Regions from separate parts of the Homo sapiens genome. Here region 1 is linked to region 2. The links come from fine-mapping of genetic effects on gene expression. A gene starts in region 2. The other region holds a variant in brackets. All regions are shown on one strand. Distances are between the middles of the regions.

Region 1 (5,362 bases), 220 kb before region 2:
GGAGACTGAGCTGTACTCCCCACCCCACCGAGATCTATGGTGCCAGGCTCCAGAAGGGGACCCTGGGGGGAGACCAGCATGACAGGAACCGCTGAAGATACCTTTGGGCACCTACTCTGCAGGGCTGGGCCAGCTGGAGGTTTAGGGCCCACATCAGAGGGGTGGGCTGGATGCCACAAAGAATGAGGCTTCCTGCTGGGGTTGCAAGGAAAGCAAGTCTGGTGTGCAGAGGGGCACCCGCTGAGCTGGCAGAGGCCTCCCCACCAGTCCCAGGAATGCTGGAAAACAGGCTGCCAGGGGATTAGGGCCAGAAGTGCCCAGGAGGCCAGGGGAGAGGTCTAAGCTAACTCCAGATAGGATAGCATCCACAGGTCTAGAAGAAAGCTCCAAGCTGGCAACACCCAGAAGGGGCTGGGCTACCAAGGGCTGGGGGCTGGGCATGCTCACTGGCCTCTGGGGAAGCACTGGGCAGATCTGGTGGGGACCAGTCTTTTAGTAGCTAGGGACTCTTGTGGCCTGCTGGGCTTAGAGATGCCAGGGTGGCAGCAGATGGCAGGGTGGGGCTGGGGAAGACCTGGCCTCTGGAAGCTAGGGTCCTGGTATGTCCGCGGGGCCAGGAAGTGGCAAGCAGAAGGGTGGCAGCAAAGGATGGACAGGGATACCCCAGATCTAGCCCAAGGGAGGTACCAAGCCTTGTGGAAAGGCAGGCGGGCTCCCCAGGTCTGTTGGAGAACCCAGGCCTCCTTGAGTAGCGGCTGTCTCCAGGGTCTCTTGCCTACTTAAGGCAGCTGGGAGCCCAGGCCTCACTGAGGAGTCATCAAGGCCTCAGCAGGAGGCAGAGAAGCACTAGCTTTCTGTGTAGTAGGGCCCAAGCTGAAGCCCCAGCCCCTCTGAGGGTGTAGTGGGATTGGGTCTAAGAGGTTTACAGGGTTTGAGGAGGTGCAGCCAAGCTTGGGACCCCAAGTTCTGAATTATATGGAGAGGAGCTAGGGGATACAGGAGGGGCCTGCCCTGGTCCCATCATCCAAATCTGAGGAGGAAAAGGGTCTGCAGATGCCTTATCAGAGGCTCTTGAAGAAGCAAGGGATCCCCTGACAAACCCAGAAATCATAGAAGAGGCCCCTTGAGGTCCTTCCAAGGGGCTCAGCACCCCTTCCTAGGACCCTGGGTTCCAATTGTCCTAAGAAATCACAGGGACCTGGAAGCTGGGCCCCTCTTGGACAAAGGCAGGGTGTGGGAGGAACAGTGGCCAGGCAGGCTGAGGCTAGGGGCTGTGGCAGGAGGGGTGGAGGGCTCATCGACACAGGCACCTCTGAGTGGGCCATAGCTAGAACATCCAGAGTTGGAGTCCCCATGGAGGCAGCAGCGTCCTCAAGGAGGCCCCCAGCTTCCCGCCACCCTGGAAAAGGGGTCCATGTGCAGCAGGAGAGACAGGAGGGGCTTGGCAGCATTCCCCCATTCCCATCTCCTGGGCAGACAGGGCTCCAGAAGAGCTGCACTGGGTGCTCCCCACTGAGGGGGTGTCTGGAGGTGGGGTCTTGGGGAGCTGCCCATGGAGAGAGCACAGCATATAGCCAGCAGCAAGGCCATGTCCACGGGCTGAAGCGTCCCCATGGCCCGCCTCCCACCACCAGCTGGGGCAGCAGGCTGGGCTCGGGGTTCGGCCCTCCCTTCTCCGGCACAGGAACTGCAGGATGAGAAGAGTCACAGCCAGTCAGGTCAGAGTCGGGTCCTGCTCCGAGGATCCCCAAAGGAGGTTTGAGGGAAGACTCAGCTGGCTCGACTCAACCCCCTTAGTGAGAACAAACTCACGGGAAGAGGAACATCAATGAGGCCAGGAATGACAGAGGGAAAGAGGCGTCTGGAGTCACGAAGGGGCTTTGGGGTCTTCACAACACCCCAGACATGGGCGTTGCCAGCAGCGACAGGGCAGAATGAGGCCTCAGGACAAGCAGGGCTCAGCACCAGGGTCCCTGCCAAGGCCAGGTTGGGGTGGTGTAGTGCTGAGCCTGGCTGGAGGTGCTGTTCCCTATGAGACGACTCTGTCCGGGGAGCCCCTCTCCCCTTCCCAGCTCCTACTCTCCGAGTCCCCCAAGACAGGGCTGTCATCCTTCCCACTCACTACCTTGCTAGCTCCACTCCTGTCAGCAAAGCCGGCCGCCCAGGCCCTTTGCCTTTTGTATTGGGCTAGGGTGCCAGGTGGGGCATGGTGAGGCTGGGTCTCACCTGAGCCCCATTCTTAGGTGGACCTGCTCGGGTCTCCTTGGGGGTGGGGGCGGGGCCAGCACACTCCACTGCCCTCACTCCTTCCTTGCCCTAGGGGTGGCAGCCCTAGGTAGGGCGCTGCTTCCCTCAGACTAGGAGTCCTGGGCAGAGTCTGGTTCCTGCCCCCACCACCTCAGACTGGGGGTCCCTGGGACACTGTCATATCTCCTTCCTTAGACTAGAACTCCCAAGTCCGGGTTAAGTCTCTTCCCTCAGACTGGTGCAGGGGAAGAGAGGGCCTCCCTGCATAGAGCTGTCGTCGCAGAGCAGCACCTCACTCCAGCCAGGCCTGGCTCTCCACCACCCCAGCCAGGCCTGGCTCTCCACCACCCCAGCCTGGCCTCTGCACCATTCTGAGTCCTCTGGGGCCACAGAGGAACCCAGGTGCGAAGCCCTACCTGTTCTGAGCCCTCACTCTGCCTGGTCACCATTGGTAAGATGTGTGTCAGGCATACAGCAGGGGCACAGGTGTGAAGGGAGGGAGGGAGAGGAGAGGACGGCGGGAAGGGAGGACCGAAGGAAAAGGAATAAAGCGCTCACTCCATTAAGGTGCTGACGATGAGATGGATGTGACTGATGGGGCTGACGAGGTGCCCATGGCTGCCCAGGGCCCGGGGGGCCCAGAGTTCAGAAACTCCACCTCCACTGCAATTCTTTCCTCCCTGTAGTAGTGTCAAATGATTCCACGTGGCTCACATCCCCATTCTTCAGGTTGTGGGACTGAGTCCCTGGGTTGCTGGATTTCTAGCCAGGCTTCCAAGCCCTGCTCCTGCCCCTTCTGGTTCTGGGAGCTCC[A/C]GCCTCGCCTGGGGATTTTCCTGTTCCAGACTCACCAAGACTCTGCACGTGCGGCTCTCTCTACCCAGACCCCACTTTGCATGTGATTTTGTATTTGTCTTCAAGGTCCAATTCAGGTATCACCTCTTCTGGGACCCAAGGACCCTCCACCCTGGTTGTCACTGCAGCAGCCACAATGTGTTGTGGTTACCTATCCCTTCACAGCCCAGTAGCTCTTCTTGGGCCTATATGAACAATGGAAGGGGACAATGGCAGCTGCCACTCCAAATCCCAGCCTAGTGTTAAGGCCAGGCTGGCACAGGAGGGACAGTGCAGCTGGGCTCAGTGACCACCACCAGGATGCCACACAGGTCCAACAAGCCCCAGTGGACTGGCCCCTGGCCCAGGGGGAGTGGGAAGACAGGCCCAGGAAGCCACCTTAGCTGCCCTGAGAACAAGCCTCTGGGGGAACAGAGCCCAGCAGGGGCAGGGTCTCCAGAGGGTGGGCCCAGCACACTACCCCCCACCCTCCAAGCTAAGGTCAGTGGGATGCATGGTCACCAGCAATGGGGAGGCTGTAACAGTTCTACCCAGACCATGAAAGACATGTCTGGCCCTGGGAGAGAGGCACGTGCTGGGTCTAATGACCAGCATTTCTCACCAGGCAGTAGCCCACAGACCAACAACCACGAGGACCCACGGGGTCTCAGGAGAGAGGGCTTTCCCAGAGCAAGCAAGTATGTGTGTGAGAGGGGTCCACAGAGCCACAGCCATCTGCACGAGGGTGCAGAAGCACCTTCTGGACTGGGAGCAGGGAGAGCAGCCTGCGAGCAAAGGGCTAAGCACACAGTGACGGAACATGAAACCGACCATCCCCAAACACACGGACAGGCCCCACTTCCAAAAACGAGCCAGATGCTTTAATGGGCTGCCTCCAGGGCCCATCGGCTCATCAGAATCCCTTAAATGAGGCCCAGAGCTTGCCAGCCTTTGGTTGAGCTCAGCACTCCACAGGCAGGTGGCTCACAGCAGGCCTGGCTGATGGGCTCTGGCTTGGGGAGCAGCAGGGTCCTCAGTCCAGATCTTCAGAGACCTTCTAGGACTGAGCTGCCACTCAGCCTACCTGCACCAGTCCCTGAGTCCCAGCAGCTGCTTAGCTTCTAGAAAACATAAGTTTCCTGGGATAATGCCAGGGGTGGGGGAGGCAGTTCAGGGAAGCACTGATGTCAATTCAGGACAGGCCTGGGGCCTCCTGGGGTGGCGGCAGCAGCAGGCCCAGAACAAGGACGCCAGCTCCAGGCTGCATCCCTGCACCAGTAGCGGGGATTGGGAGCAGGGAGTGCAGGCTCCCTCAGGGAGCTCCAGGCTGGAGTAGGGCCAACCCAACCCCAAATGCTGGGGGGTGACTCCTGAAAGTGTGAGTCACATCCACTGCCTAAGGTACCACTCTACGATAGCCAAGTCCTAGGACACACGAAGACTTTCTATAGGAAGGTTCTCTGCCTCCAATTCTAGGCCCTGTCCCAGAGAGGAAGCAGAGACCAAATGGTGACAGGGTATGTATCAGGCAGCATCCCCACAACAACCCTGTGAGGTAGGTTGCGTTGTCCCATTTTACACATGGGGAATGAGGGCTCAGCAGAGGTGAAGTTTCTTGCCCAGGTCCTGCAGCAAGAACACGAGCCGGGATTCAAGCCCAGGTCTGTCGGGCTCCAAAGCCCATGTGTGTTCTCTAGGCAAGAAATAGGGAGTAGTCCTATCCAATAAAGACCCTCACGTTAAAAGCTCAGGGGCTCTTCAGCCCACCCTGAATGGGCCACAGGGTCAGAGATGGAACCCCTCCAGGGGAGCAGCCACAGCCCCAGCATCCACTCGTGGCCCCGGGGCAGCTGGGCAGGCAGAAGGGAAGGGTGGAGAGTGACTGCTATACACACAGCACTGGCAACCAGTGCTACAGGTGATGGCTCTGGCTGTCCAGCAGCTGTGGGCAGGGTGAGGGCTGGTCTGGTCTTGAGGACTTGTGGCCCCAGGTGGGCAGAGCCAGGCCATTGAGCCAGGCGGTCTCCAGCAGACTGCGGAAGCGGGCCTTCAGTGTGGGGCCAGGTGGGCTGGCACTGGTAGCAGGGGTAGGGGAGGCACCACAGGACTCTTCCCCAGCAGCTGCCTCTGCTTTCTCCGGGCCAGGGGTTGGTGGCTTCCTGCCTGGCTTCCTGACCTTGGGGGCCGGTGACTTCTGAGCCAGGGCTAGGCTCTCTGGCTCACCTCTGGCCACAGTGGGCTCTGAGGAGGACACAGCTCCAGCCTCAGTGTCAAAGTCACCTGG
Region 2 (5,362 bases):
TCCCACTCCTAGCCCCATCTTCTGCCCTGAAATCCCAGAACTATGAATAATCCTCAGAAAACAGCAGTCTCCTGGCCATGCTGTCCCTGTCCTACTGATGACTATTCAGTAGCCTCCTACAGATCTTTGCCTGGCATTCAAGGCTTTGTGCCAGTCAGCTACAAACCTCCCTCCCACCACCTTTGGCTGCTCACAGGTTGACCTGCCTCCTACACTCCCAGCCTCATGCAGGAGATCATCTCTAGCCGCCCCCTCTGCTTCCAGTGCCCCTAAATTGGCAGCACTATCAGCTCCTCTAAGTCCTGCTACCTTCTCACATCCCACCCCTTCTGGGAAGCCTTTCCAAAAATCGCTGCTCTGCATCCCGCTGCATACATTTTGAGTCAGTCATTGGGCACTAAGTGTTCACGTCTTCTCCCATAATCTCCTCACTCCCTCCTGGATGGAGTTTCCAGGAGGGACCCAGCACAGAGCACAGTCAATCCATATACTTGCTTAAGACTTGGACACTTTCCCAATGGGTGGGAGGGAGGCAATTAACGCCCTCCCCCAATCAGATTAAGCCCAAAGCTGCTGTCAAACCTGCTGTATCACACTTCCTCCAGGAAACCTTCCGAAACTCCTGGCTGGCAGCAGGGAAGGAAGTGCAGCCTGTAAAGGAAATGCTGTGGGGGGCAAGGGGTGGGGATAGGGACAGGGAGGCAGAGGGATAGGGGAGGAAAGGAAAAGGAAGAGGGAGAAGAAAGGGGGGATGCTCTAAACTAGAACAAGGAGCATCCTCAAGGGAGGTCACTACTTAGTCCTATTATTTCATCTCTAGAGAAAGGTGCTAGAAAGAGATGCCCAGAGAGGGGAGGTGACTTGGGGAACTTGCTTGGAGGTGGCCACTCAGGAAACGGTTAAAGAAACAGCCACAGAGCCCAAGGTCTCTCTCTAGAACTCCCCTCCTGGGACCCCACTAACTCTCCAAGGGGTTTGCTAAACCTAAGACCCTCTTTCAGGGGCCCATTCACCAGAGACAGCCCCCTCTCAGCTCTAGAGACTTTGCCCTAAGGCTCACCAAGCCCAGAACAAACCTAAGTTAGCAAGACCTGTGTAGCCCCAAACAAAATCTCTCTGCCAATCATGCCCCTGCAAGAACCATCTCCCTCTTTCAGAGCCCTGCTCCGTGAGGCAGAACATGTAGGGGACAGGTTGCAAATTTCTCCAGACTCCACCACCCCATGGGCAGTCACATGGCTGAGCTCCCAGGCTCAGCCCCCAACAGCTGTGCTCGTTTTCATCCCTGTGCCTTTGCCCATACATTCTCCTGGAATGCCCTCTCTTGCCTCTCCTCCCACCCAAATCCCATCACCTCTGGAAGTCTCCTATTCGCTAGCTGTCGCCTCCCTTTCTCTCTGTGTCCCTGGGAAAGTCTGCCAGGCCCTCACTGATCTCCCCATCGGGAAGCTGGGACATTACTTGTTTAAGCCGCCTGTGACAGTGAATGCTCAGTCCGAGTCTCTACTTGGTTCCCCCAACCCACAGACCAGGAGCTCCCCGAGGCGGAGGACAAGGATCGGTTCACAAACACCTCACCTCCATCCTCGTGACCTCCGGCCAGCGTTGAAATGAGCCAAATCCGGCGCCCCCAACTCACCACCCAAAGCCCTGATGGAGCCCGCCTGGTGGCCTGGGCCAGCGCGCCCGTCGCCTCGCAACCCTGGGGCGGCTGAGGTCCGCCATCCAAAGGTCGGCCGCCCGAGGGAGGTGAGGGAAGTCAACCCGGGTCCACCTGCAGGCGCTAGTTGGAAGGAAAGGCCCAAAGGAAGCCACGGGCACCCCCTTCCAGTCGCCCCCATCCCCGGCTGCGCACGCCATCTCCAGAAGGCCGGTTTCCAGGGAACGCCAGGTGGGGCTGGCGGGGGGGATGGAGGGCCCAAAGCTCAGGCTCCAGATCCAGGGTCTGACGTCACCCAAAGGCCCAGTTCCCTCTGCGGGAGCCACAGATGGGAATGGGGGGGCTTGGGGGGCTCGGGGGGCCTGGGTGCGCCCTGAGCGCTCTCCCCCAGCCCCAAACAGTAAAGGTCACCTCCACTCCCACCTCTCCAGCAGTTCGGCCTTCTTCCTGCATCCAAAGGTGAAGTGTAGGAGGAACAAAGCTGCAGCCAGCGACCCCCACACCTCTCGCCCCGCGCCCAGCTTCCCTTCAAAGCTCTCCTCCCAGCCTTCATGCCCAGACTCACCTGCCGCGGCCGTTCGGCTGCCGAAAGGCCGCAGCGCTGCGCTGAGCTGCGCTGCACCCGAGCGATGCGGCGCGGAGCCGGCCGCGAGCCGCTCCGGGGCTGGGGGCGGGGAGCGCGCGCGCGCGCGCGCGCGCCCGAGGCCGTCTCTGCGCGCGCCCGCGCCGCCACTGCCTGCAGCAGTCACTCTCGCGAGACTTCCGCTCTGCTCCTAAGGCTGCTCCTCCTGAGCTCGCGAGAAGGACGACCCGGCCGCCCCGGCATCTTCCAGGAGCTGTCCGAGGTGCTAGTTCCCGGGCCCCGGCCGGATCAGGTGGTTGACGGGCACCTCAGGGACAAGAGCCTGGCGTGTAGGTGGAAGGAAGAGACCCAGAGATGGGAGCCTGGCACCAGCAGCCAGAGCCTCAGCTTCCATATCTGTAAACTGGGGAGAATAACCTCCTATACCTATGCCAGGAGCCTCTGGGACGTGCCAGAAAGGAGTGAGAAAGAGCTGAAAGCAGGAGAGTGTGGTGACTGCGGAAGGTCCTTCAGATCTGCAGGCGCAGGGGGAAAGAGAGAACAGAGGACGGAAGATCGGAGATGATATTCAGAGAGGCAAGGACACAGATCCACGGAAAGACGACATAGGAGGACGAGAAAGAAGAGCTGCAAACAGAGACAGAGACACACGGAGAGAGAGACTGAGATGAGAGCTCAAGGCCTGGAGAGAAAAAAGACATGGAAAGATAAGATAGGTAAGGGAGCATAATGAAGCAAGAAAGAGGCAAGAAATAGAGACAAATTACGCAAAGGAGCAGAGAGAGAGAGAGAGAGAGAGGAGAGGCTTAGAAAAAGAAAGAGACTCAGAAAAAGGAATGAAAGAGACAGTGATATGCAGAGATGAATACCAAGAGAGAGTAGAGGCAAGGGTAAATGTTTAAAAACCCAGAGCTTTGGAGGGTTGAGAGAGACCCACTTGGAGAGATGGGCTGGGAGTGAAGACAGGATTTTATTGTGATTGGTGTTTACATAGTAAACCTCCGTGGGATCTCTACAGGCAGGGCCAGGGCCACTGTCTGTCCTGCCAGCCAATTGCTCCTTCCCCTACACCATACACCCACCCTCCACCCCCCACCCACACCATCCTAGGCCTGGAAGGGGGCCTCAGTGGGTGGGAGACACTGCAGGGATTCTTTGCCTAGAATAAGGGCCCATTGTCTGGCTCCATCCTGCCAGGAGTGGGGCCTCACTCCCACAGCTGGCATGAAAAGGGGGTGGCAGTGAAAAAAGGCAGACAAGAACTAGTGTGGCAGAGGGGAAAAGGAGGGAGAGAGCCTCGGTGCCTGGGAAGGGCTGAGCAGGAAGCATCATCCTGCCACCAGGCCAACCAGGAAGGAAGGGTCCTGGGCTTCGGGGCAGGACAACTGGGTTCTGTGTCAGTCCTGTCCCTGGTTGACCCACATGCTGTCTCTCCCTGCTATAATGCAAGCCAAGGCTGATTTACAGAGCTGTGGAGAGCAGCCAATGAGATGACAACTGGGAACCTGTCGAAGTTATCAAGTGTGGCTGCTACAGGGAAAATGTTGGGAGTCCATGTGGGCCTCAGGAAAGATATAGGGGTTCACATAGGCCTTTAGGAGAGAGATCTGAGGTCCACACTGGGATCCACAAGGAAGATGTCTGGAAACCACATGGAATTTATAGGAGATATCTTGTGGTTCATGTAGGTCCTACAAGGGAAATATTGGGGTTCCCGTCTGATGACCACGGACAATTTTTCTCCACTCAGAAGAATCAGAAGGGTCTCCTATTTGATAAACAACTAACGTAGGAAGAGTGAGCAGGTCCAAAGTCAGAAGCCCACCTTTGTCCCAGTAGATTGTACCTTTCCTATTCAGGTAAATGGAAGGGAACAATGATCACTTAAACAAACGTTTACTTAATAGGCATTTGCTGGTTACCTACCATGAGAAGAAGCATACAGCAGTGGTTAAGAATATCAACCTAGAAGGCAGACCTTGCCCCTTCCCTGCAGTGTGAATTTGAGAAGGTACTAATCCTCACTGAACCTTAGTTTTCCACATATGTAAAATAAGGATGGTGATAATGGGACCCGTGTCTTAGGGTTCCTGCAAGGATGAAATGAATTAATACATGCAGACACATGTAACATATGGGACTGCCTGGTACACAGTAAGTATTTAATGATCTGTAAATAGATGGATAAAACAATTTTTAAAAATTAAAAATAAAGTATTTAAGCCAGGCACGGTGGGTCACGCCTATAATCCCAGCACTTTGGGAGGCCAAGGCAGGCGAATCACTTGAGGTCAGGAGTTCGAGACCAGCCTGGCCAACATGGTGAAACTTCATCTCTGCTAAAAATACAGAAATAGCCAGCCATGGTGGTGTGCACCTGTAATCCCAGCTACTCAGGAGGCTGAGGCACAAGAATCCCTTGAACCCAGGAGGTGGAGGTTGCAGTGAGCCTAGATGACGCCACTGCACTCCAGCCTAGGCGACAGACCAAGACTTCCTCTCAAAAAAATAAATAAATAAAGTATTTAAAGGTGCTAGCTCAAACTGCGTGGCAGGCACTGGAGACATGTCTTTGTTGTAGTGGAGGGCAGGGGTGAGAGAGCCTGTGCCAAACCATGCAGTAACACATTTCAAGCTTCTTTGCAGATGTGGAGAATGTCACATCTGCTCATATGCCATTACTCAAAGCAAGTCACATGGGTAAGCCCAAAATTAATTCATGGGGGTCAGGGAGGTATGCTACCCATACAGGATGCCAGATAAGTCACATGACAAATGGTGGGGACATTTAATCCCATTGCAGAGGGAGCAAGTAACTGGGAACAGGAACCCAATCAATCAATGTCCCACAGGGCCAGCTCCAGGCTGCTTATCTTTCCCTGCCTAGCTATGCCTGAATGAGGCATGTCCATCCAAGAGTCTCTGGGAGAATATTTATGTTACAGGCCAGTAAACGAATAAAAATAGAAGTATTTACTGAACTTTTAATGTCTGAGTGAAATGCTAAACTGCATGACCATCCTAAGAAATAAGTGCTATTGGGCCGGGCGCAGTGGCTCACACCTCTAATCCCAGCACTTTGGGAGGCCAAGGCGGGTGAATCACAAGGTCAAGAGATC

What was found.
Region 1: its variant is fine-mapped to the expression of SCAMP5 in whole blood (INTERVAL, PIP 0.98).

The regions. Positions count from the first base shown.
Region 1 is chr15:75,210,745-75,216,106 of GRCh38, reverse strand. It overlaps C15orf39 (chromosome 15 open reading frame 39), which reads right to left. Exons shown (of 3, transcript NM_015492.5): 3 at 3,938-5,358. The coding sequence ends at 4,991. Among named protein-coding and RNA genes, the nearest start is that of C15orf39, 12 kb to the right of the region's middle. RefSeq lists an enhancer at 1,273-1,332. The variant A/C (reference allele first, on the strand shown) is at 3,061.
Region 2 is chr15:74,992,537-74,997,898 of GRCh38, reverse strand. SCAMP5 (secretory carrier membrane protein 5) reads right to left here and starts at 2,336. Exons shown (of 7, transcript NM_138967.4): 1 at 2,226-2,336.